Linked DNA regions of Homo sapiens. The protein of the gene in region 4 purifies or fractionates together with the protein of the main gene of each other region. This does not show direct contact. Each region holds a gene or a part of one and is shown on either strand. Other genes may lie near its edges. The genes, in order: KPNA1, STK35, KPNA3 and CTDSPL2.

What was found.
Region 1: the proteins of CTDSPL2 (region 4) and KPNA1 purify together in Homo sapiens (affinity purification with mass spectrometry; 3 studies listed by BioGRID and IntAct, with this or other methods). This does not show direct contact.
Region 2: the proteins of CTDSPL2 (region 4) and STK35 purify together in Homo sapiens (affinity purification with mass spectrometry; 4 studies listed by BioGRID and IntAct, with this or other methods). This does not show direct contact.
Region 3: the proteins of CTDSPL2 (region 4) and KPNA3 purify together in Homo sapiens (affinity purification with mass spectrometry; 2 studies listed by BioGRID and IntAct, with this or other methods). This does not show direct contact.

What each region holds. Positions count from the first base shown.
Region 1 is NC_000003.12:122,504,925-122,511,952, forward strand, and holds part of KPNA1 (importin subunit alpha-5), read right to left. Parts: intron 1-7,028. UniProt on the Homo sapiens protein: Functions in nuclear protein import as an adapter protein for nuclear receptor KPNB1. Binds specifically and directly to substrates containing either a simple or bipartite NLS motif.
Region 2 is NC_000020.11:2,111,827-2,118,854, reverse strand, and holds part of STK35 (serine/threonine-protein kinase 35), read right to left. Parts: intron 2,190-7,028; coding exon 1,477-2,189; 3' UTR 1,440-1,476; intron 1,169-1,439; exon of another isoform or gene 1-1,168.
Region 3 is NC_000013.11:49,782,678-49,789,705, forward strand, and holds part of KPNA3 (importin subunit alpha-4), read right to left. Parts: intron 1-7,028. UniProt on the Homo sapiens protein: Functions in nuclear protein import as an adapter protein for nuclear receptor KPNB1. Binds specifically and directly to substrates containing either a simple or bipartite NLS motif.
Region 4 is NC_000015.10:44,514,609-44,521,636, reverse strand, and holds part of CTDSPL2 (CTD small phosphatase-like protein 2), read right to left. Parts: coding exon 6,977-7,028; intron 6,873-6,976; coding exon 6,793-6,872; intron 2,469-6,792; coding exon 2,342-2,468; intron 327-2,341; coding exon 231-326; intron 1-230. UniProt on the Homo sapiens protein: Probable phosphatase.

The DNA.
Region 1 (7,028 bases), on a different chromosome or scaffold from region 4:
ACACAAGCCTCAAATGTCCCTCTAAAGAGTCTAATTAATGTGTCTGAAGCAGACAGACACCTCTGGGTTTTTCTTCCTTTTAAGATCCCCAAGTGGGCCAGGCACAGTGGCTCACACCAGTAATCCCATCACTTTGGGAGGCCAAGGGGCGGGCAGATCACTTGAGGTCAGGAGTTCGAGACCAGCCTGGCCAACATGGTGAAACCCCGCCTCTACTAAAAATACAAAAATTAGCCAGCATAGTGGCATGCACCTGTGAGTCCAGGTACTTGGGAGGATGAGGCATAAGTATGGCTTGAACCCGGGAGGCAGAAGTTGCAGTGAGCCAGGATTGTACCACTGCATGCCTCAAAAAAAAAAAAAAAAAAAAATCCAAGCAAATTCTGATATGCATCTGCAGTTGAAAATCACTATAGTAGAGCAAAAGTTTTATTTTAAAACAATGTAAAATACAGTTGAAAATGAAGGCTGAAGTTGGACTGAAGATAGCTTTGATAGGAAAGAAAGGAAATAAATCTCTATGTCTGTAATAAGAGGAATAACAAAGTAATTGTATGAGAAAATTAGTTTATCCTAAGCAAATATTTTTAGGTGTTATCACCTAAGCTACTAATTAAAAATTGTAAGTTACTTTTCAAAGTACCCTCTCAGGAATCAGAAGCCTTCAAAATTAAAGCCATTATACCTAAATTTCCTCTTGTTTTCTAGAGAAATAAAGCCAAAGAAGCAATAAACTTAAAAACAAGATGCAATACTGGTGGTGAAATAGAAACACACTCTTTCAAAGACAGATCCCCTCACTTTCTCCTTCATGTCTAGTTACTCAATTATCAAATTTTGCTTATTCTATCCAAAGTCTTTGATTTTATCTGATCCGATCTATTCCCACTGCCACCAGCCTGGCTCAAGTCTGTGTCAACTGACACCTAGATAACTACAACAGCTCTAAACCAGCATTCTTAACCTCAGACTCTTTGCTCCTCAATTCATCCTACACAGCCCTCAGATTAATCTCAACACCCTTTTCACTGTATCACTTCAATGGATAAGGAACTACAACGTTTTTAACCACTTCTTAGAACAAGTCTAAACTTCTTGGTCCTGCAAGATCCTTTTGTCTGGATTCATTCAATACCATTCTCCACCACTCTAAACCCAAAACAATGAGTGTAGATCTTTTTATATTTTTATTATATTCAAGATGTTATATATTCAGTGCACTGGGTCAGCCCACCTAATCAGTAAATCTCAAACACATTCTAAATGTTCTGAATATTTAAAATCCATAATACTCTTGTGGAACAACTTGAAATCCTAATATACTTAATTCCACCATATAAATCAGGCATAATTTTATTAGAAAGTATATGATATGCATTTACTATTAAAAACCAAAACTACAAGAAAGTATGACTACAAAAAAGTTATGAATTTAAATAAGTGGAGTATAAGTATAAAGTGTTCAGTTCATTTGAAAATATAAATTATTGATGTTAACAGCTTCTAGTCAAACGATAGTAGGTCCGTTTAAAATATTTTAATAGAAATTAGAAAAGAAAATTAAAATTTGAAATATCCTACCCATTCTTTTCCTATACGATAATTAAGGAGTAGCTTTATTTTTATTAAGAGCATTTCAGTGTTCAATGAAAGCAAAGTTTGAAAAACCCTTCAATAAAGCTTTTCCTGTGAGAAGTCAATGTGGCAGACATATGATTCATAGGTGTTCATCTCTGGCCTCATCTTATAGCTCTAACCAATAATCCAATGGCAATACATATTTTCTTTCACAGCCCAGTTTCAAATGTTTTCCTTTGAGAGGTTTATCATAACCTTTGCCCCAAATTCTGACCCCCAACTCCCAGTATCTATAGGTTCCCAAGCTGGGAAGTTCTCCAAAGACATTCTCAATATCAAAACACTTAAAGGAAAATATCTGTCAAGGATCTGGAGAACTCAAACCCTGAATTGAATACTTCCACTTTTAGAATGTACATAAAGGAAACAAAACTAGTAGTATGTGTAAGACTGTTCACTGCAGTGTGATTATTCTAGTGAAAAATTGTAAAAAACCTAAAAGTTCCAATATGAGGGCTTGGTTAAAGGAAATGTTCACAATGTATTGAGAAAACAGAACACTAACATGAAAAATCTGAATGCTGGGAACAAAAACCCAACCTACACTATTCTCTATACTTTCGAAAAATATTTCGTAACTTAAGAAATCAGAATATAGCTGGGCGCAGTAGTTCACACCTGTAATCCCAGCACTTTGGGAGGCCAAGGCGGGCGGATCACCAGAGGTCAGGAGTTCGAGACCAGCCTGGCCAACATGGGGAAACCCCATTTCTATTAAAAATACAAAAATTAGCCGGGCGTGGTGGCGGGCGCTTGCAATCCCAGCTACTCGGGAGGTTGAGGCAGGAGAATCACTTGAACCCAGATGGCAGAGGTTGCAGTGAGCTGAGATTGTGCCATTGCACTCCAGCCTGGGCGACAGAGCAAGACTCCATCTCAAAAAAAAAAAAAAAGAAAAGAGAAGATATCAGCATATAAAATTTGAATATGGAAATATTATTTTATCTTCCAAATTTTCTGTGATAAGCAATATACTGATTATACAAGAAAAAAACTTTCAAAAAGTAGAGCTGAAAGCATATGTTTACTATGATAAAGCTTATCAACCTACCTAAAACACTGAATTTCTATACTTTTCACTACTATTTTTTCAACTGAGTATGCTGTTATTTCTTCAGAAGTTCTGATCTTTATGGTCTTTATGAAGGAGAAAAATTATCTCTTATCTAAAAGTTGAATGATTTTTTGGGGGGTTAAAAAAAAAAAAAGACAAATCTTTCCAGAAGATGACATAAAGGGTTCGTTCCCTCAGTAGTAAAAAAATTTTTAATCGCAAAAACTTGCCTTCATTCAATTCATATCCATTAATGAATTTAATAACCACTGTAATATATCTGTTTTAAGAACACTTATGAGGGTTTTCAAATTTCAAATCAGGAATTAGCACATATAGACTGCACTTTTCTTCCCATATCATATTAACTCAAAGCCAGAAATTCAATTTTAATCTTCAATAGGCACACAGTGGTCATTCAAATGCTGTGAAAAAATGAACAGAGGAGAAAACAAAGAGTTTATGTAAAGAAATAAAATGGTAGACATGGTAGAATACTAAAATTATAAAGAAATTTTTTTTTCAAATAAATGAACCAGAACCACGGCATAAAGAGAATAGGTAAGCAAAAGAATCAGAGATGGTGTCAAAACCTAAAAGAAGCCATAAAATAGACAAATTATATGTCACTAGCAAAGTGGAAAACTCTGAAGCCTAACCTGCAAACGAAGAAGGCAATAAGAAACAAGCTGATTCACACTACCTACCCACAAACAGGATGCTTCAGACAGATCATCCAGGTACTATCCCTCCTTAAGGTAGTGAGGAGTTGGGCTCAAAATCAGAAGGTTTGTTGAAAGTCTACAAAACAGCCATCACATGCCCAGATTTCCTCCTCCACTCTTCACAACCAGACAACCATCCTTCAGTAATCCCTTCAAATGGGTGCTCCAATGCAGGTGAGGGTGGGGGTGAGGTGCCTTATTGATAACAGAATTACATGAGCACAACAGTAAAAACCCAAGCTCCTTTTCTAAAATGAGTTCTCAAAACATGGCAGCCAGACACACATTCTCCTGGCAAGAGACTGGAGACTCTCAGGGAAACTGACTAGCCCAAGAGAAACAAACCTATGAGTATATGCCCTCCACCCACCACAAAAAAAATGGCCACCAGCTACTCTCTTCACCCTTCAACAAGCCACACTTAATAGAGCTTCCAATTCAGTTTTTGGCACTTCATTCTTAAATATGAATGGACAGCCACAAGACTACCAGACATCTGGGGAAAGCCTCAATAAAGAAAAGACAACAATGGTAACAAAATTTTTAAAACTATCATTAATATCCCCAGAAAGAATACAGCATCTATGAAACAACACAAATATACTATAAAATAAGAATGAGAGGCTGGACGCGGTAGCTCACGCCTGTAATCCCAGCACTTTGGGAAGCCGAGGAGGGTGGATCACTTGAGGTCAGGAGTTCAAGACCAGCCTGGCCAACATGGTGAAACCCCGTATCTACTAAAAATACAAAAATTAGCCAGGCGTAGTGGCGGGCCCCTGTAAACCCAGCTACTCGTGAGGCTGAGTCAGAACAATGGCTTAAGCCCAGGAGGCAGAGGTTGCGGTGAGCCAAGATCATGCCACTGCACTCACTTGGGCAACTGAACAAGACTCTCTATCAAACAAAAAAAAAAAAAAGAAAGATAAAACCAAGTAAAGGCAAACATGTGAGCAAAAAAGAACTCTCAAGCACTCAAGTAGGCACATACACTAATTCTCCCACTCTATGCCCAAGGAATCACAATCTTGGGTATATATCCTAGAGAACTTCTATACAGGTCTATAATAATGTACAAGAGTATATATAACACAGGGTATTTGAAATAGCAGAAAGGCAACTCAGGGATCAATTCCTAGGGAATGAAAAGTAAAATGTGGTAGATCTGCATTACAGAATTCTACATTAGACACAACTATACATACTTACAACAAAACAGAAAGATCCCCAAATCAATGTTGAATAAAAAAGAAAAAGACCTTTGCAAGGTCTATAACACAATACCTAAACATACACAGCTCCACTACATATTTTACAATGTTTCATATATAATCAAGGAATGTACCAACCACAATGTTATACAAAGAGGTAACAGAAGTAGGGCTCAGAAATTTAAGATAAAAATTTAAAGGACCTTGTACGATCTGATGTGTGACAAGAACTGAGAAGCATAATTCATTCTAAAATTCTTTTTGCCTAACATCCAAATAATAACAAAAACTTTCGAGAACTAAAGGACATGAACTCCCAGCTTATAAAGGTCCATGGAATGCCCTTAAACAAAAAAATACCCATACCTAGACACATCATCATGGAATTTTGAGGGTTAAAAATATCCTAAAAGCTTCTAGAGATTGGGGTAAAGGAAGATCACATACAAACAAAGAATCAGATTGGCTTTGGATTTCAAGAGTAACCCTGGAAGAAAGAAAACAATAGAACTATGACTTGCAAACTTGAAGTAGAAGTTACTTTCAACTCAGAATTTTATACCCAGACAAATTACTGATCAAATGCGAAGGAAGAATAAAGATTTTTTTCAGTCATGTAAGATGTCAGGAAGTTTTTGTTTTCCATGTATCCTTTCTCAGAAAGCTACTAAAAAATGTACTCCAAGGAAATAAGTAAACCAAGAAAGAAAATACAGGAAACAGTAAACAGGGGAACCAGTACAAAAGAGGGCAAAGAAGTTTAAGGATGATGAAAAGAGAAGTCCCTGGATAACAACTATGAAATAGGCCTAGAAAGTAACCAGTCCTAATTGCATTAAGAGGTTCCAGGTTAGCTGTCTCAGGAAATGAAGCAAACAACAACAAAAAATACTAACTTGTAGAAAAACAAAAATTTATTAAGAGAAGAAATGATATCACAGTACTCTACATGGGTCAGCTGTGAACATTTATAGAGTTACAATATTGTAAACACTAAATATTGGTTTAGTAGACACACCTGTGATAACTATATTTGGAGGATGGTAGAGACAGTGTGTGCATATGGCAGGTGAGGTGAATATATATGTGAAACACTAAGGAACATCTTGCTTAGACGAAAGCCAATAATATCTATAATTGCTATATCATGATATAGCAATAAAAGCAAGTCACTGTATTTATAAATATGAAAGCAAACACAAGAGGAAACAGCTAGAAGAAAGAAAATGGTAGCTTTTCAAGTGCAGAGGCTGGGACAGGGAACAGCTGCTTTTCAGGTATTCTAATTCCAAAATTTTATTTTTTTAATGTTGATAAAACAAGGAACTTGAACAATCTCACGACGGTTATATTAGATCTTCAGTATTATTTCATGGTGTTAAACTACATCTAGTTTGTTCTGCCAAAGAGACTGAACGGCTAAAACCAATCTTTAACGATCAATGTGAACACAGTACAAACAGCCCTATTTGAATCCCAACTCCACTACTTTGTGAAGTAAGGCGAGTTACCCAATCACCTTGCACACGTAATCACCTCCTCAAAATGGTTTTGCAAGAACAAGTAAGTGAAAGCACCTGATGCAGAACCTGACCCATCAATAGATGTCAGAGTACTTTCAGCGGGTCTTTCTGTTCCCTAGCTGACCCCAAGCTGCCTATTCTGACCCCAAGCTGCCTATTCTGACCCCAACCTGCCTTGTTGCTCACAGAGTATATAGGCACTCATGGACTCAGCACATATCCCTCCTCACGCTGGAAAAACAATCATGATGAGTAAGCAGACTTATCTTTGTATATGAAGGGCAGCATTATTCTTGTTAATATGAAGGAGATTATCTCCATTATCCACATTCTGGATTACTGCCTGCTTTCAAGAACTGTCCCAATTAGTCTACAACACTTGGACAGAACCATTTTTTCATGTTGTTTTGTAGGTTTGTAACATCTTTAAAAAAAAGAAAGAAAGAAACATACATTCCCACAGTCTTCATCCCTACTCTTCCAATGTACAACCTCAAAATTTTCTAATGCAGGCCCTATCTGGCCCTCAGTTGGCCTCAGGCCATCTCCTGCTTACTGCAGCAAAAGACAGAAATCAGCCCAAATCAGCTAATTTAACTGTTTACCATTTCCAGTGTTTTCTTCCCTATTATGGCTAAATTCATAACACCATGCAAAGTACAAAGATACCTTAAAACAAAACAAGGAGTTATCTTTATCACTAGGTCAGTCATCTTTACTTGCAAGACCAATCAAAGGTCTTAACTGATTTTATACACAGTACTCATACATCTAAAAACAATCTGGTAGACTTAAAAGCACAGACATCATAAATCATTAAAACTCTATTTTATCATTAATTCAACAAACACTGTGCTAAAACACTGAAGATGCAAAG
Region 2 (7,028 bases), on a different chromosome or scaffold from region 4:
TGTACAGCATGTTACTGTACTGAATACTATAGGCAGTTGTAACACAATGGTAAGTTTTTGTGTATCTAAACACAGAAAAGGTAACACATACACCATAATATGCACTATAACATTACAACAGCTACATCACTAGGTAATAGGAATTTTTCAGTTCCATTATAATCTAATGGGACCACCGTCATATAGGCCATTCCTTTTTGACCAAAACGTTGTTCATGCGGAGCATGACTGTACTTCACAAAGGAAAACTCACAATAAATTTTTTTTTTTTTTGAGACGGAGTCTCGCTCTGTTGCCCAGGCTGGAGTGCAGTGGCACGATCTCAGCTCACTGCAAGCTCCGCCTCCCGGGTTCACACCATTCTCCTGCCTCAGCCTCCCGAGTAGCTGGGACTACAAGTGCCCGCCACCACGCCTGGCTGATTTTTTTGTTATTTTTAGTAAAGATGGGGTTTCACTGTGTTAGCCAGGATGGTCTTGATCTCCTGACCTCGTGATCCGCCCACCTTGGAATAAATTTTTTAAATAAGCAAAGACTTCTACATAAATATTCACTAATACATTCTTTATAGTATCTAAAATGGAAAAAATCTGTTTTCTAAAGTAGGAGAATGGTTAAATTATGGTACATATAATGGGAATGTCATACAGTCCCTGAAAAGCCATACTTCTAAAGTATGACATGGAGGAATGCTCAGATTAGTAATGAGTAAAAAGAAAAAGACCTTGACCAACTAGGGCAAGATCTAAACTATGTGGAACCGGATGTGTGAGTAGGTGGGATACAATCAGAGATAGTGTTTATTCTCTGAAAACCTGTCTACCTCTTATGCACATTTTCTACAGTGAGCATTTATAATGATGAGAAAGAGCGTTTCTAAAAAAAGGGAGACTCGGCTTAAACGCAACCTCCTCTGAGAAGACTTCTCTAGACTTTCCAACGTGTACTCAGATAATTGCACGTTTCTCCCATCAAGATATGGGGGGGATCTTTGAAAAGAAGCACTTCATTTTCTTCAACTTTGTATTCCCCTGCAAGTTCACAGGGCCCATGCCAGGGTCCAGAATGAAGAACCCGGTCCAAGAAGTGGGCATACAGAAAAAAAAGAGAGGCTGGGCATGGTGGCTCACAACTGTAATCCCAGCACTTTGGGAGGCTGAGACCAGCAGATCGCTTGAGGTCAGAAGTTTGAGACCAGCCTAGCCAACATGGTGAAACTCCGTCTCTACTAAAAATACAAAAATTAGCCGGGCATGATGGCAGGTGCCTGTAATCCCAGCTACCCAGGTGGCTGAGGCACGAGAATCACTTGAACTCGGGAGGTGGAGGTTGCAGTGAGCTGAGATCCTGCCACTGCACCCGCTGCACCCCAGCCTGACCAACAGAGTGAGACCCTGTCTCAAAACAAAAAACAAAAAACAACAACAGAGAGCACTCACCTAGTTTAAAATCACCCAAAATGCTTAGCCCTGAATTTTAAGCAGCACATGTGACCTGGTCCATTCTGGTTTCAAGTTCAAAGGCATCAGGCCGGTCCTGTGGGTTAGCAGCTAACATATCTTTCAAGAGCTGCTTGATCCCCTCAGACATGGAAGTCCTGCGTTTTTGGGGGATGTGCAACTCCATCTTTGGGTTTTCTAGCAGCGCCTCACCAACAGGGACGATCTCAGTCCCCTGTTTAATGTAGGTCCCCAGGAGCTCCTTCTTGGTCTCAGAGTCAATAAAAGTGATTCTTTCTATCATTGCCCAGATGATAATGCCCAGGGCAAAGATGTCCGCCTTGGCTGTGTAGTGTCCCTCCCAGACTTCAGGAGCCATGTAGAAGTCCGAACCGCAGGCTGAGGACAGCCAGTACTTATTCACATTCACATTTTTGTTGTCTTGATTGCCCTCTTTGCCTCGGGGTGCCAGCCCAGCACAGACCTTGCTTAGTCCAAAGTCGGCCACTTTGAGGATGGGGGTGCCAGACCGCTCTGTGATGAGGATGTTGTCTGGCTTCAGGTCCCTGTGCACAATATGGTTTTTGTGCAGGAAGGCAATGGCGCTCGTCAGCTGTAGCATGAAACTTTTGTTGGTGGCTGGGTCTGGCCTCCGGGACAGGACATACTGATTCAGGTCTCCACCTTCACAGAACTCCATGACAAACCAGAGATAGCAGGGCTCCTCAGCATAACCCAGGATCCTTTCTCCTAAATCAAAGAAGACAGGAAGGAGCTTGAGTGAGATGGACACAGTCACACTTCTTTTTAACTAAAGGATGCAGTGTATTCAAGAGTGACATTGGTGACAAACAACTGCTCCAAGGGGACCTGCACAACTGGCACTGAGTGCCTTTCTAAGGTATGACACAGGCACCAGGGACTGGTGTCAGGTACCTGGGTTTGGAATGAGGCCCAGGTGGAAACTCGGGTTTACTGCCGTCTGGTTGACTGCGAAGCCTTTTTGTTTCATTATACTGTCTCCAAACAGGGAGTGCCATACCACCCACACCTCCCAAAGCTGCTGGGCAGATGGGACAAGGGAAAGCATGCAAGAAGGCTGTCACGGGTCTGTTGCTTCTAATATCATTGTTACTCCATGCTGAGCAAATGACCTTCCCTCTCTTTTTTCCTGACTTGTAGAAGGATTCTTGTTAATGCACCTAGAATGGCACTAGAATTTCCTTTATTTCAGAGGCACACTCCTACAATTTCCTTGGTTTATTTCAGAGGCACAGTCCGATCCATCAATATTTTCTGCAAGCCCACCACATGCCTAGCACAAGTTAGGTACATAACATGCCTCCACCTCTATGAGGCTTAGTTTCAAGGAGATGACAGGTATCCACAGCAGCAACCATCAAAAGCTGTACATCGCCATCAGGCTCAACTACTACAAACAGTGAAGCGGAGGCAGGAGTCGCCAGATCTGAATGTACATCTCCATCAGGGTCAACTCATATAAACAGTGAAGGGGGGGGCAGGAGTGGCCAGATCTGAAGGTGTCAGAGGGGGCAGGACTGAACTTACCCTGTAAAAGGCAGGCAGTAGATCAGTGGGGGAGCAGGAAGGTAATTCTAGGCTGAAAGATGGAATGGATGATGGAACACAGGGACAAAAAGACCAGAAAGGTGTAAATTGGAAGTCTGGTGGGAACAGTGGAGTCTAAAGTCGATGTACAAGACAGATTTAAATTGTGTGGGCTTGAAACTCTAGGAAAGCTGGTGACCAACCTCTCCAAGCAAATCTCAATGTTCTTTATAAAGCAACTGACAGTCCAGTGAATCTTTATGTGGATGTTATGTGATGACTACAACTGCTCCCAAAGCTAAGTGTAAGAAGGCAGATGTTTTATCTCACTGATGAGGAGAGGCTGGGCCTGCAAATGTGCTGGCTTGTTCTGGGTGGTCACAAGGTCATTTGTAACTGAGCCAGGACCTGAAGAGAAGTCCTCTCTCTGGCCCCAGTATGGAGTATGCATCCTACCAAAAATGACTGCACTTCCTCAGACAGCTTCTGGCAGAGGGTTCCTTTTACTAGTCATTTACTCTATTACAAAGAAAACGAGTGATCTAGGTGAGGCTCTGCTAACCCCAACAGCCTGAAATTACCAAGGCTCACAGTCTACTAAAGCCAATGGTCTGAGAGTTCTGGGTTCAGCCAAGATGATGTGACACACAAAACAAAAGCTTTAGGTTTTTGATCACAATCGGATAGCCCTCACTTCCCTTGTAATTATATAATTTATTTGCTTATATTACTCACAATCAAAGTAATACAGGTAGAACCAGTTTAGGGCAGATGTTTTTTGTTCTTTTCAAATCAGTTATTTCCCCTCTCATAATCCTCTATCTAGGTCATGGGCAGAGGCCCTCTATGTAAAAATACTGCACAATGAAGCATCAATCTGAAGCCCAAGTCAATCCAGATGCTAAAGACCCACAAAAAGGAGAGCAAGAAATGTGTACTACAGGTAGAACCAGAAAGGAAAAGATCAAAAAGCCATCCAATTCCTTTTGCAAAGGCCACATCAGAAAACACTGAAACTTCTGGTGGGGGAATAAAGGAAGAGGAATGATGGTTATTTTATATACAAAGTTAGTAACTATGGCAACCTAAGGAAAAAGAAAACAAGTCTGCAAAACAGACTATAATCTAAGTCCAGGTTATGAGAATCCAGGGAAAGAAAAAATGGTAAAAAAAGAACCCAAAGTTTGTGAGTGGTTGGGGGAGACTGGACCTTCGGACTGAGGAGCTGCTCTGAGGAAGGAGCTAGACTCAGGAGATGCTACAGGAGGGGCTGTTTGTTGAGAGGAAAATTCTGGACAGGAAGAAGTATTCTCAGAATCACACCCAGTAACAGTGGGTATGACAGAATGGAAAACTGGGAGTGCAGCTATTTGTCCCAGATACAAAAGTGTTATTATTTTTACGAGTCAAGGTCTCACTCTGTCACCCAGGCTGGAGTGCAGAGGTGTGACCATAGCTCACAGTAGCCTCCAACTCCTGTGCTCAAGTGGTCCTCCCGCCTTGGCTTCCCAACGTACTTCCAAAAGAAGTACTTTTGAGGCCGGGTGCAGTGGCCTCAATAGTCCCAGCTTCTCAATAGCACCTGGCCTCAAAAGTACTTCTTTGCGCAGGAAAGGCCCCTGGACTTCTTTCATGAGAAGCTGCAGCGTATGCTTTCACACACGAACTCCCGGGAGAAAACAAACATGTCAGAATTCTAGTCCTTTACTCCAAGCAGACTGTCTAACGGGGTCTCAGCTACCTCACGACCAGATGGAAGGAGGCGACGTGGATGATGCCAGGCACTCGGAGGCACTTGGTGAAGTAACAGGAAAAACACAGACCAGGAAACAAAGAGTTTGGGTTCAGACCCCAACTCTGACCACTGCCTCACTGGGTGGATTCTTTGTTTCAAGGAAAACACAGGGAGACTGAGGTGTGATGAAAAGATGGCTGGAACCCTGGGCAAGTCCCTGAAGCTCTCTGAGCCTCAGTCTTTTTGGTACCTCAGTCTTCACATCTATCAAATGAGAGAATGAAACTATACCACATGAGTACTGTGACTTAAGTCAGATAGGAACTACATTTGGCAGAATGTAAGATCTTTTTGGGGAAATGAACCACTGACCATCACTAACATCATCATTCCCACTCAACCCCAACCAAATCCTTGGAAGTCACCGATTTCAATAATCCCAGTGCTGTAGGCCGTAAGAGTAAGTTTTTACATGTTAGGCAAAAGATGAAATTTAGATCTTAGAATGAAAGTGTATTATTCCATCTAAGACATCACACTTCTTAGGCTGTAACAGCTGAAACCCATGTTCTAGGCAGACCAGGCTATTCCTATTTGAAGTGATCCCTCTCCCTAGGCCTGCTGCCCCCACAATCTCTGCAGGTACAATTGAAATGTGCACCTTAAGGCTAGCTGCAACACCAGTCTATCTTATACTCACTTGATTTCCCAGTAACTTCCCTCTTCTGACCAGCCAAGGCCCTAGTTTCATATTTTTATTTTAGTTTTTATTAAATTATACCAGATATTCTGGTTAGCAATCTATGGCTTAACTCTTCTACTTAACCCTGAGAAATGCTGGCACATTCTGCAGATGTTTTGAGGTCGGGGGACTAGATTTCTTACTCAGTCTTCCGGCCTCCCCAGGGAGACCTGCAGTCATTTCCAAGGTGCCTGTGCATTGAGGAAGGGAAAGTAATCAAACTTTAGGGGATTACTGAACACAAGTTCCAAAAAGACACTAATTCCCAAAGAACCAAACTGTCACTGTGGTCCACCAGTCAGAACAGGACTGATGGAGGGCAGGTGATCCATGGAGTTTCAGCTCAGGCCCATCTCACAGTGGGCTCCCGACCCACCCACAACTGCGGGTATTTCCCCAGTTTCAGGATATATAATTGGAATAGATATATGCAGCAACCACTAAAATCCCCACATGAAATTCAGTTTTTTGAGCTGAGAGGAACAAATAAAATTTACTTAAGTTTTATAATTCCCTTGTCTGGTATAATCTGACAGTTGTATAAGATTAATAAGAGTTACAAATTTAGCTTCCTTCCCAGAGAGGGAGAAAACAGGCAGGTTATTTGGAGATAGTAAGGATTTGAGGTAAATTAGCCTGTGAAAGCCTACTGGGTTCCAGGTACTATTTTAAAAGTTTATTATGTGAGCTATCTCATCTTACCAGGCACCGTTTTACAGGTGGGGCAACTAAGGCTGAGAAAGGCTTCAGAGTCTGCCCGAGGGCCCTTACCATGAGTAACTGGGGGGGATAGGAGAGAACCCCCACAGCAAGTCCTCCCCCCAGACCATGCTGTCTCCCAGCTCACAGAGGGCTAAAAAGTGTTCTTCCAAGAGAGGCAGGCCTGCCTTTGGGGACAGTTTTACTACCTTTCCCTCAAGTCTGACAGTCAGGTGACCATAATATAAATTATGTATTTCAAAACATATCCTATGCCACAGTCCACAGGGAGAGAAGATGCTTAAAGTAAACCCAAGAACAAAACCAAGCAGGTGTCTTGCATCTCATTAGTCATGGAAATTCATCAGTAGTGCTTAAGTTCCCAATAAAAACATGGCTTGCTTCGCTGAAAAACGTGAGGCCAGCAGGCTCAGCATAAAGACAAGCCAGTAGGAGCTTTGGAAAGACAGGCACTTCCTGTAAAGAAATACAAAATGCTCTAGATTTTTACAAGCCTATCCTTAAGCCTTCTCCAGAAGTTAGATTTCCAGGTTTTAGTCAACGCCACTTCAACAATTTCTGAGCACACATTGCTCTTGAGACAGAGGTGCGGTGAGCTGAGGGGCATCCCTGCCCTTACATAGGCTTCTGGTCATTAGAAGCAGAATGACTACAGCTGTGAGAACTAGGAAGCGGGCCCGGATCTGCCAGAAGAGTTGGGAGAGAAGCTGGGATGAGAGGAAGGCAGGCTGAGAATAACTGCGAGAGGCCCTGCAGCTGCGTCTCCCAGGATGAGGGGAGTGGGCACAGGAGCAGGTGGGTGTGCGCCAGGGACACGAGTAGT
Region 3 (7,028 bases), on a different chromosome or scaffold from region 4:
AGACCAGCTTGGACAACACGGCGAAACCCTGTCTCTACAAAAAATAAAAAAATTAGCTGGGCGTGGTGGCGTGCACCTGTCCAGCTACTTGAGAGGATCACTCGAGCCTGGGAAGTTAAGGATGCAGTGAGCCGTGATTGTGCCACTGTACTCCAGCCTGGGTGACAGAGCAAGACCCTGTCTCAAAGAAAAAAAAAAAGCTAAATAAATGTTTAATAAATCTGTTTCCCAAGTCACTAGAATATGTAAAGCATCAAATAAAAAGAAACATAGGGGCTACCACAAGTAAATATGCTGACAGTATCAAAAGAAAGCTGATAGACCAAAAGCAAGGGAAGGACAAGCCAAAAAAATTAAGAAGAGCAAAAACTCCACAAGCGTAAAAATCAAGAAGAAAATTCTGTTAATTTAACAACCTGAAGGCATCACTTATGTAAAAGCAAAACCCAATATCCATATGCATAATGGTGATTCTCAAGAACCAAGAAAACAACTAAATTATATTCTATTTAAGGCAAGTGTCAAAATAAAGTAAAATCTAGTATGTATACAACCTCCCTAACCCAGAAAACCAAGAATGATTAATTCCAAGTAAATATAGTCATGATTTATTTTACCATATTTTAACTGCTGATGTTGGCTATGCTGTAAGAAAATTTTTCTTAACAGCAAAACTGCAAGAAAGGATAGCTACATCCTCCTTATACTTTTAATATTCCTTCACCTCCACTTGAAAATGAGAATACAGTCCTCCCTCTGTATCCTCGGGGGGGTTGGCTCCAGATGCTCCCTCCCCCGAAGATACTAAAATCTGCAGATGCTCAAATCTCTTCTATAAAATGGCACAGTACAGTCAGCCCTACGAATCCACAGGTTACAAAGGGCCAGCTGTACAGCCAAACCGTATGCTAACTAAACAAAAGGTCAACTGAGGAGTGGTGTCAGTCATAGAAAGAAAATCCTACTGACTCTGAAGTTAGAAGTTCTAGATATACACTTTGTAACTCCTTTACTGGATACCAAGAAGTTACTTTTTTTTCCACTTCTTGAAATGTCATCAATTTCATGTCCCATTTCCCCCAAATAACTAAAATTCACTTCACAAACTGTTAAGTAACTTTCACATTGATGGCATTAAACTATTTGTTCTTTATCACCTGAACCCTACGATCATTCTTATTATCATTACTGAGATATATTCTAAGGTACACACTACCACCAACTGAAGTTTAAATAAATTAATAGAAGCTTAACTTGAAGCTAATCAAGACTTTAAATCAAACTTCCAGTTTAGACTGGGCTCAGTGGCTCATGGCTATAATCCCAGCATTTTGGGAGATTGAGGAGGGAGGACTGCTTGAGGACAGGAGTTCAAGACCAGCCTGGGCAACACAGCAAGACCCCATCGCTACAAAAAGTAAATAAGCTGGACATGGTAGTGTGCACCTGTAGTCCTAGCTACTCAAGACGCTGAGGCAGGAGGATCGCTTGAGCCATGATCGTGTCACTGCACTCCAGCCCAGGTAACAGCAAGATTCTGTCTCAAAAATAATGTTTAAAAATTTTTTTTTAAAAAAACTTCCAGATTACAAAAAATCTGAAGGGTGGTAAAAAAACAAATAAGAGGAACCAGTTAAGCACCACCAGAAGGAAACAGACAAACCCAGTAATTAGGACAGTCTATTAGGCTAAATATGAAATTGCCAATACTTGGCTGTTGTTACAAACCTGGAAAAAAGCAATTTCATATAGTGCAATTTAATAAAAGAAAACTGACCCGAACAAATTAGTGGCATTTTTAAATGGTTGGGAGACAACAGACTAAAGTTGGAAACAATCCAAGTATTCATCTATAGATGAATGGGTAAACAAAATGTGGTATATACATACAATAGAATGTTACTTAGCCATACAAATTAGCCTTAATCACTAATTCATTCACTATGTATATACCTTAATCTCCCAGAACTTTACCTGTCATAATAAAAAGCTTGGAGTTGATTTGGGAAGCAGTAGGAAAAGGCACTAAAAGAGTAAACATTTCAGTTCAAAAATACACATGGGAAAAATTATTGTGTCTGCGGTGCCTACGATGTATTTATTCAAGGAATATTTTAGTGCTTGCTTGGTTCTAGCCACTGTACTAAGTGGTAGGCAATGAAGATACATAGTCTGTGCCCTCAAAAAGCTCACAATCTAGTAGGAAAAATAAAATCTAATTAAAATACATTATCATAATTGCAACGAGAAAGATACACTCAGACTTCTTCCAGGAGCAAAGAATGGTACCTACCCAGAGTTGAGTATTTAAAAGTGGTAGGAATTAGCCAGGCAACAGGAGGCAGAGAAGGATATTCCAGTCAGCAAGATGGCCCTGAGAATAGAAATAGCACTGGCGAGGAGGGGCAGGCGGGATTCCAGATTATGTATAAGCATATAAGAAGTTCAGTGTTGCTAGGGCTTAAGGGGGTGGGGGAGGAAGGCTGAATCTGGAGAAATAATCAGGCATCAGGCTCACTGAAAAATCTCATAAACTAAAGGAAGAAAACCACTTTGGAGATAGTTTTTAAACAGGAAGGTGACAGGTAATAAGGCCTAAAGTAGGCTGGAGGCAGCAGAATATAGAGGCAGGGCCAAAATCCAGAGACAGCACAGAGATTCGAGCTACATAACTGGCATCTGACTGAATGTGGAAGAGGAGAAGTCCAAGAAGCCTCTCAAGTTTCAAATTCAGGTCACAGTGAGGGTGATGATGCCATAAACAGAAAAAAGAAAAAACAAAGGCAGAACATGGCTTTAAACACTTTGAGCTTGAGAAGCTAAAAAGATGCTCATGTGAATAATTTCCAGCAGATGATTTTATGAAATTTAAGTCCCCGCACATTGAAATGATGATTAAAGCCAAGGGAGTTGCTGATATGAGCAAGAAAAACAGTCTACAGATAAAAGAATCGTAGACAGAATCCCAAGCCATGCCTACTACATTCAAAGGGTAGGAAGAAGACTTACCAAAGCTGACTGAAAAAGAGTACTCCAAGAGAACCAGGAAGCAGTATATGCCCCATTAGTGAATTCATGAAAAAAAAAAAGTTTGTTTGCTATATGGCATATAGATTCCTGAAACACTTTACACTCTCCAAACTTAGGAAGAAGAGGGAAATGCACAGGATGGATGGTCGTTAAGCACCTTTAGACACTGCATATGGTTAAACAGAGCCAAGAGGCAGAACATGGGTGCATGGCCAATATGCATACTCCTGGGCTTGATCCGTTCAACTGTTTCTGTACTTTATGTTCAACTGTTGTTATTTAAGAGTGCTAAACATTAATGTGATACTAAAAATCACATATGAACCAATATGAACTTTGCCTTAACATTTTTTTATTAACCATTCAAGTATGAGCGAGTTCATGTTACAGAAATACATTATAGGAGAACAGGCTGTTCAAGGAGGGCTAGGCAACAGTATCAATGCCATGGAGTCAACACCAAAAGAAAATTAATGTCTTAGAATAATACTGAACCTTTCATTCCCAAATGTAGACTTTTTTCAGGTATATCATCTAGTCTCTCTTCTCATTAAGTTTCATGTTTCAAGTTACATCCAAGGTATCTATTCTCACTGAGCTTCTCAACAGAGCCCAAATACTTTAATAGCTATACAAACACAGAATTTGTTGTACATCACAGCAATTTATCCCAAATAGGTGAAGGAAAATTCACCTAGGAAAACACTAGAGAGGAGGAAAAGAATAGGGACTGATAGTACCAAGTATACTGTAAGTCAGGAAAGGCTCATGGAGAACTTTTAAAGTTTTTTTTTGTTTTTGGTTTTTAACTAGAATGACATGGTGTGGCAGAATTGTAATCTTGGTGTTCCAGAGATATATGAAGGAGTCTCACTGAAGAGATAGGTTGCCAGAGTGAACCCCAACTCAACAGATAGTCAAAAGAAGGCACACAGAACAGCATATACAAAGGCATGAAGAAGAAACTACTGGTTACTCAAGCATCTCCAGTACTTTATCACAGCTGGCACAAAGGAGATATAAGGAAAAGTGCAAGGTGAGGTAAAAAAGGTAAGGTCTTACAACTATGTGTGGCATGCTAAGGACTTTTATCCTGAAGTCAATGGGAAGGATCATAAACAGGAAAGTAACACAGAAAGATATGAGAAAGATCAATCCACAAGATACACTGGGGAGAGAAGATACTGAACACAGAAGAGCTAGGTACACTATTATACTTGTTCAGGCAACAAAGATAAGGGTCTAAACTAGGGGCAGAGGAAGTAAGGTTGGTAACAGGTACAAACATGAGGGTTCTTCAGATAACTAATACAAAGAAGGGTGAAGGAGGGGAAGAGAAGGGAGTCAAGGATAGAATCTTAAACTTGGACAATCAGATAGTGCCACTTAGCACTGGAGGTTCCAGAGACAGAAGCAAGTCTGGTAGAGCTAACTGAATTTTGCAGGTGAGAAAATATATATTAGCCCTGGTATCAGAAACTAAAGCATAAAGCTTAAGTGTTAAGCCCAAAGATACGGATTATCATTTTTTGGTAAAACCAACCAACTGGCTCCTTGCTGATAAGAAGGAAACTTTGCAAGAGTAAAAAGATAAAAAGGCAAATAAATCTAATAGTAAAGTTCATCAAAAATTTGCAAGGTTTTAAAGTATAGAAATAGCAATTTCTGTGATATAGTCGATATTTCTTCAATATTTTCCCCATTCACTAACTTTCAGGCGTGGTTTGTACATGTCAAGTCTTAGACTCCCTTCGGTGGAGTACAGCACAGTAAGCAAGAGTTCTAGCTTTAGCATCAAGCTTTATTTGTTTGTTTTTGAGACAGAGTTTCACTCTGTCGCCCAGACTTGAGTGCAGTGGCATGACCACAGCTCATTGTAACCTCTGCCTCCCCGGTTCAAGTGATTCTCTCGCCTCAGCCTCCCTTGTAGCTGGGATTACAGGCATGAGCCACCAGGACCGGCTAATTTTTGTATTTTTTTTTTTTTTTTGAGACGGAGTTTCGCTCTGTCGCCCAGGCTGGAGTGCAGTGGTGCGATCTTGACTCACTGCAAGCTCCGCCTCCCGGGTTCACGCCATTCTCCTGCCTCAGCCTCCCGTGTAGCTGGGACTACAGGCACGCGCCACCATGCCCGGCTAATTTTTGTATTTTTAGTAGAGACGGGGTTTCACCATGTTGGCCAGGCTGGTCTCGAACTCCTGACCTCGGGTGATCCACCTGCCTCGGCCTCCCAAAGTGCTGGGATTACAGGCGTTAGCCATTGCGCCCAGCCGCTTAGCATAAAGCTTTGATATATTGTAAGTCCAGGCTTTGCCACTTAACACCCGATGGAAGACTTAAGGCCACTTACTTAAGGGTTGTAGGCCTCAAGTTGCCTCAGCAGTAAATGGGGATAATAATAGTACTTACTTGATATAGGACTGTTGTGAAGATTAAATAGATAATCTATATAAAGTACTTAGCACTGATATACTGTAAACAATAAATGTTAAGGTTTTTAAAATAATTAATTACTGTTACTAATGAAAATGTCACACCCTTGAGGTATACAGCAGCAAGAAAATGAGTTGACCTGGATTGCAGTTACCTGAGCATTTGTTTTGTAATTATTCATTAAACAGAACATTTCTGTTTTGCACACTTTTCTATAAGTTATCTTTGAAAACAGGAAAAGTTTTTAAGAATCAATGCCTTACATGAAAAGGTCTAGCATTAAAATGCACATTCCAGGACCGGGCATGGTGACTCATGCCCCTAATCCCAACACTTTTAGAGGCCAAGGCAGGAGGATAACTTGAGCTAGCAGTTTGAAACCAGCCTGGGCAACATGGCAAAACCCCGTCTCTACAAAAAACACAAAAATTAGCCAGGTGTGGTGGCATGTGCCTGTAGTCCCAGCTACTCAAGAGGCTGAGATGGAAGGACGGCTTGAGCCTGGGAGGAGGCGAAGGTTATAGTGAGCCGAGATTGGGCCACTGCACTCCACCCTTGGCGACAGAGCCAGACCCTCTTTTTTTTTTTTTTTTTTTTTAAAAAAAAAAAGCACATTCCAGAACAAATAAAAGGAAATGTTTCCCTTTCAATATGTACTTCCTAGTTTTTGCTACAAAATGCATCCCCTACCCAAGCTCCAAATTTCTATCAGTGATGATAATTACTCCCTCCCTTCCTCCATTTATAAACCTCAGAATAACCTTTACTCCCTTTCTCTTCAGTGATCTTTATAAAGAGAATTTGAAGGAGGAGGAAGAGGGAGGAAGAACAGCATCATCAAATCCTCATTCCAGGTTGTAGCCATTCCCAGTCTCAATTTTTTGGAAAACTCTTCTTTGCAGATCAGACAACAGCGCTATTTCTCCAAAATGAATTCTAGGTATTACTGCCCTGTCACCCTTTCCATTGCTCTAATCATGTTACATCTCCTCTTTGCTCTGGAATAAATTCCTTCACATCTCCCTATTAAGAAAAAGCTTCCAAGCAACTCTTTGCCACAAGATATTCTTGCATCAACACAGGCCACCTGGAAGTCTCCTCTCTTTAATATAATCACTCTTCTTTTTTACCTGGATATTTATTCACCAGTTAACATGCCCCTTTTAAGTTTGGTACATATTTCCTATAAGATTCACTAACCTCATTTTTTTTTTCCTCTCCAAAGATCTCTTAAAGTCTCTCTCGATTGAATGACAAAGAAATTTTCTTCCTCAACCCTCTCTCTACTCAAATCCCCTGGCATAACTCTATCCTTTTATTTTCTTTAACAAGTATGGATCTTATTCTTGCACCTAACATCTTGTGTATCAGCTGCTTCTATAATTTATAACATGTTTTAGTTTTTGTCTATCCTATATGTGAAAAAATAGGCATCATAGCTTATCAAAGTGCATCTCACTGTTTTGGAACAGCCTGATAACCACAACTACTCAGTTACAGAGCTAAGTTGTACTGTTTCTAATGGACAAGACTAAGCATGGTTATCTACTCTTAGATATGCCTAA
Region 4 (7,028 bases):
CTGGAGTCTCACTATGTTGCCTAGTATGACCTCAAATTCCTAGGCTCAATCAATCCTCCTGCCTCAGACTCTAAAGTAGCTGGCACTACAGGCGCCTATGATGGCACCTGTGACCTGGCTCACAGTTGACTTTATAAGTCAGTACACACAAAGCAAAGACATTTAAAAATATTTATTTCAATATAGTTGAGCTAACAAAAACACAACAGAAAAAGATAAGCTACACTTACCAGTTCTACAAGCTTCTCCAGGAATGGAATCAATTTTAGGAGTTCATTGTCATTTTTATCCATAAACCAACTTTCTATAGGGATTCCATTAGAAAGCTAAAACAATAAATAAGTAATTAAATCCTCTTTTACTTATATTTTACCTAGTTTGGAAAAAGTTAAAAAATAAACAAAGATTTATTAAGTAAACACTGATCTAAAAGTTCCTTTGAAAAGTAATGTCACCAGACTTTTCTTTGACAACTCAATAGTGCAAGAGACAGAGGATAAGGAAATAAATTGAAGCCTATTGGTTTTTCAGTGTCATTTCTTCTCAGAGTATATAAAACTAAACAAGAAAGTTCCATTAAAATACATTTTATAAGGATCATTAATATAAATAAAATATTCCATTATTCCTTCAAGAAATAGTTACAATTAGTACAATGCTAGGTAGGCACTGTGAATGATGGGACACTGCCAATCTAAAGAGAATATAGAAAAGCCTATACTTTTTTTTCCCCTTAAATACAGTGACCATATCTCCCATTCATTATTCTATTCCCATCGAGTAGGATGATAACTTGAAATATAGTAGAAACTTAACAAATTAATGGTATTTCATTGAAGAGGAGCCTAAAAACAAGAATGCAAGCCATATTTATTTTATGGTGAATAATCTCTGGGATAAAATGTTTTAAAATTTAGGCTAAATGTTGTATATGAGATGGAGGATAATTGATATAATTTTAACTAGGAACCAAGATGAAATTCTTAAAAGACATTTTTAAATGTAAACAAATAAAAGTAAGGACCTAAATATAACTTAGTATCATATACAGCTTTTCACTTGTTTTCTTTTTATTATAGACATTTTGAAACACAGGACAAATCTAGTTTATACTCCAATCCACTTTGCATCATCCCTATTCTGGACTGGCTTATTGTGAAGCAAATCTAAGAAATCCTATCACATGGGGCTGGGTGTGGTAGCTCACAACTGTAATCCCAGCACTTTGGGAGGCTGAGACAGGTGGGATCACCTGAGGTCAGAAGTTCGAGACCAGCCTGGCCAACACAGCAAAACCCCGTCTCTACTAATAATACAAAAAAATTAGCACGGCATAGTGGCGCGCACCTGTAGTGCCAGCTACTAAGGAGGTGGAGGCAGGAGAATCACGAACCCGGGAGGTGGAGGCTGCAGTGAGCTGAGATCGTGCCACTGCACTCCAGCCTGGGCGACGAGCAAAACTCCGTCTCAAAAAAAAAAAAAGGAAAACAAAAAAAAGAAAAAAGAAATCATATCACATGGACATATTCATAATCTAAAATATACCTTGAAAGGATGACTCATCAGGCAGGCGCAGTGGCTCACACCTGTAATCCCACCACTTTGGGAGGCTGAGGCAGGCGATCACCTGAGGTCGGGAGTTCGAGACCAGCCTGACCAACATGGAGAAACCCCGTCTCTACTAAAAATACAAAATTAGCCAGGCGTGGTGGCAGACACCTGTAATCCCAGCTACTCGGGAGGTTGAGGCAGGAGAATCGCTTGAACCCAGGAGGCGGAGGTTGCAGTGAGCCAAGATCACGCCATTGCACTCCACTCCAGTTTGGGCAACAAGAGTGAAACTGCTTCTCAAAAAACAAAAACAAAAAAAAACAAAAAAACAAAAGGAAGGAAGGATGACTCATCTACATTTGTAGTTATACGTCAAAGAAATATTAACAAAGGGTACAAATATATTGACAAAATAGTCTAAGAAAATATTTCAGAACATTAAACCAAATAACCAGACCAGAAGAACATAAACTAACTATAGTACTCAAATATGTTTATGATTAAATTACTAATTACTGATTTAATAACTGATAAGAATGCTATTCAATGATGCTTATCTTATAGTTTTCTTACTCAGGTTTTTCTTCATTTATGCTGCATGTCATTTAAGTAAAAATTTTCCAAAAGGAATATACCACTTTGTCATTTCTAATTCTAAAAAAATGACACATTAAAGGGAAATTCCACCAGTGAAAATTCTCTTCTTCTTCTCCCATCATATTCTGTTTGGCAGCATGTGTCTTCATTGTATTTTTTCCAATCTGAGTTTGTTTATCAACTTTCTTCCTACCTGATATGCAAAGGCTTGTGGTGAGTTGTCAATTATTATAGTTTTTGAAAGATCTCTTCCAAGAATATTTAAGTCCTTTATATAGTTTCCTTGTACACAAACACAATGTTCACGGAAAAGCCGGTGCCTAAACATAAAAATAAAAACAAATTAAAAAAAAAAAACTTTCTAAAAAGTAGAACATATACACATATATATACACCATAGGCTTTATAGTTTAAGCCATATGATTTTCTCTCTTGAAGGAAATTCAAACACAAATATGGGTCTAAGCGTTGGGCTGCCATTTTACTATAAAAATTCTAAGCAATTACTGAAAGCTTACAACCAAATATTACTATGCCTTAAAGAACTTGAGTTTATCCCAAAATGTTATTATTAAATTATAAAGGGGGATTAAAAACTCTAAATTGTTTTTGTAATTTATTTACCCAAGAAAGCTCAGCTCAGATGCAGCATCTGGTTGTCAGCGAGGTCCTGCTTTTTAACCAATTTTCCAGATGGTTGACTGAGGAACAAGGAGGTCAAGTGACTTGCCCAAGGTCACACAGTAAGTCAGTGGTTAGCCCCGCATTGGAACCCAGGATCCTCCTGGCTCCCAGTCCTTGGCTCTAACCAGTGGACCACACAGCCTCCCTATCCCTGTACATGCCAGAATAGAAAATATAAGAAGGAATGTTTTTGTGTTGGCATTTGAAAAAATGCTTTTTAGATTTCCTTATTTTTTTTGAGAAAAGGTCCTAAGACCAAAACATTCCATCATTTCAACTTTTCCTAAACACCCCTCTTTTAGTATATGTGTATGATCATTTGAAAAAAGATTAAGTGAAATGAGGAATTCAGATTTAAGTATCAAGTATTATAAATGTAAACTGATATTTCACTCACATAGAAAAATACTACATCATTTTAGAAAGCTATTAAAGGTTTTACAATACTAAAGTGATTATTATAATCTCAATTTATACTCAAAATACTAGTCTCTGAACATTACTAATAATTGTTTCATATAATTTTTTTCTACCTTGAAGTACTCTATTCTGTATATATTAATAATTGGTAAGTTGTCTTCCTTGTGTCTTAATCACACTAACAATTTTACAAAATCTAGGACCTATTTGGACCTGTATTTTAAATTATGCAATTTCAAGAAACTGGTATTTTCTACCCACAAAATCTGTCACAGTGCTACCAAGAATAAATAAAAATCTACATATACACACACAAATAAAAACTCAACCTTAAAATTATCAGTGCCAGTTGGTATGGCAAAAAGGAAGAATTTAACGAACAGACAAAATGTATAAGCAGTTCTTTCCCCCTTATTATAAGGAATAACTTTAATAATCACAGTCAAACGATCATCTGGCCCCGGGAAAGTTTAGTCAGTTCTACTTTGAAAAAACAACAACAAAAAAGACTAAGTAAATTAATTCAAGCCTTGGTTGGGCCTAAATAAGATTCACTGTTTTATTTCTATAAACATTTAGATATGAGGAAACTGGAAAGGCAGATACAGCATGTAAATTCAAGTCACTGTTGATGCCTCTTCACCGATAGTGGCAAACTCATTGAGACAGGAGACAACTGAATCTGTACGTGGATACTACAGTTATTTTAATTAAATTACAGTAAAAGCCTTCCAATTATTCATTCAGGAATCTGAGGGTGTATAGCATGTATTTGCATTTTTAGAAAAAAACTATTTGTACCAGTCATCAAAGAGCAGATCATCCATGTGAGTACAGACTTGTGTTAGAAACTCATGAGATTTAGAGATCACAGGAATTTCTTTTTTTCTTCTTTTTTTTTTTTTGAGACGGAGTCTCCCACTGTCGCCCAGGCTGGAGTGCAATGGCAGACTCTCGGCTCACTGCAACCTCTGCCTCCCGAGTAGCTGGGATTACAGGCGCCTGCCACCATGCCCAGCTAATTTTTTTTGTATTTTTAGTAGAGACGAGGTTTCATTATGTTGGCCAGGCTGGTCTTGAACTCCTGACCTCGTGATCCGCCTGCCTTGGCCTCCCAAAGTGCTGGGATTACAGGCGTGAGCCACGGCACTCAGCCTAGATCATAGGAATTTCTTAGAGTCTACCTTGTCACCAACACAGACAATTCCCTATAGCACTCACAATCTACTCTTTGAAACGCTTTTGTTGGCCAGGCGCGGTGGCTCACGCCTGTAATCCCAGCACTTTGGGAGGCCAACGTGGGCGGATCACGAGGTCAGGAGTTCCAGACCAGCCTGACCAACATGATGAAACCCCGTCTCTATTAAAAATACAAAAATTAGCTGGGCGTGGTGATGCGCGCCTGCAATCCCAGCTTATCAGGAGGCTGAGGCAGGAGAATCGCTTGAATCTGGGAGGCCGAGTTTACAGTGAGCCAAGATCGCACCACTGCACTCCAGGCTGGGTGACAGAGCAAGACTGTTTCAAACAACAAACAAACAAACAAAAAAACAAGCTTTTGTTTCAGATTTCTCAAAATACATCTAGATAGAACAAATGGAAACCCTCAAGTGTGTAGGTTTTATAAATCTAGTTTAAAAGAGGATTGTTAATTTATAACACATTGTCATAACATGACTATCATTTGTTCCTCATTAGTAAATGAAAGCTCCAAGAGGGAAGAGCTTGTGTTGCTCACCACTGTTCCCTGGAATACTGGAGATGCTGAACAGAAATCATTATAATGAATGAAGTCATCAAAACAAAATCACTGGGTATACTTTAGTAAAGTGAGGTAAAATTAGCATAAATTACAATATACTTTTGTGAACAGAAAATACCATTTCCCATTTGTGTGACTGCAGCTTACTTATTTTGACCCTTTAGATTAAAAAACAAAAGATACCACAGCTTTATTTAGAATAAAAAACCTTCCAAAATATGAACATTAGGAAAAGCCTTTCAGTATACTTGCAACCACTGAATAATAAAGGTACTGTTAACAGCAGAAAATACACTTTAGGATTTTCCAGTAAGACAACATGGGAAAAGTATTTAAGAAAATTTATACTCAGCTGGGCTGGGTGCAGTGGCTCACGCCTGTAATGCCAGCAGTTTGGGAGGCCAAAGTGGGTGGATCACTTGAGGTCAGGAGTTCAAGACCAGCCTGGCCAATATGATGAAACCCCATCTCTACTAAAAACACTAAAAATTAGCCAGGTGTGGTGGCACACACCTGTAGTCCCAGCTACTCGAGAGGCTGAGGCAGGAGAATCTTTTAAACTCAGAAGGCAGAGATTGCAAACTGCACTCCAGCCTGGGCAACAGAGTGAGAATCCGCCTCAAAAAAAAAAAAAAAGAAAAAGAAAGAAAGAAATAGAGAAAGAGAGAGGAGAGAAAGAAAGAAAGAAAGAGAGAGAGAAAGAACGAACGAACCAACCAACCAACCCAGCTATTAAAGTCTTTTTTTTTGAGATGGAGTTTTGCTCTTGTTGCCCAGGCTGGAGTGCAACGGCACGATCTCGGCTCACCATAACCTCCGCCTTCCGGGTTCAAGCGATTCTCCTGCCTCAGCCTCCCGAGTGGCTGGGATTACAGGCATGCGCCACCACGCCCACCTAAATTTTGTATTTTTAGTAGAGACACGGGGTTTCTCCATATTGGTGAGGCTGGCCTTGAACTCCTGACCTCAGGTGATTAGCCAGACTCAGCCTCCCAAAGTGCTGGGATTACAGGCGTGAGCCACCGCGCCTGGCCCTATTAAAGCTTTTATGAGCCGTTTGTGTCATCTCTCTCAGCTTTTGATCAAAAATTCAAAGATTAACCCCTCCTCTTAAAGGATACAGCAAGACTGCTGCAGTCTTACTATCTCACTTCAGCTGACAAAATAATGGAACTAATTATCATAATATTTTAAAATCACCACGGCACTCCCACTAACCAGGAAAACACTGCATCTGCTGGCTCAGGGCACACACAAGGAACTGAGTCCAGTCAGGATAACCTGAGTGACTAAACCCACTGTAATTTCCAATCAGATTCATGTAACATTTTCTTTCCATGGAAGATAAATTTGCTTTCAAAAAAAGCAAGGGCTTAATTTGATCCTTTCTGTTAAAAAATAATTTTTATTTCTCTATGCCATTAAAAAGTAAATTAACATGCATTACCTCAGAGACATATGGAGATGAAACATCATGCACAACGTGGAAAAATTCCACACAACCCCCCCAACCCCCGTCTTCCCCAATCCCAAAAGAAATGAGGATATAGATGTCACAGTGAATAAAGGCACTGGATCTTTGTATCCTTTAAAGAACGTCTGTCTGGAGTTCCATCATTAGGAACTCTTTTAAAGAGTTTAGGGGCTTAAAAAATTCATTTATATTCACCATTCAACACATATGCAGCCAACTGAAAATGGCCATTAAAATGAAATAGAATCAGTAATTTCATAGATCAGTGTGACAGACATTTCCACTATTTCTTAATTAAATTTACCTGACCAGTTGCTTTTTAGGGTCTAGTATGTTCAGTAACTTGTCTGCATACACCTTCTTAGAAGCAGTAAAAAGAATGATCTATAAATTCAGGGGAAAAGAAGTAATCATTATACATGGTCTAAATATGGGTACTATATTGAATAAAATAAAAATACATATGTAATTAGCTTAAGCATGTTTACCTCATACATCTGAGACATTCGTTCCAGGAATTCCCTGAAAAATGGTCTTAAT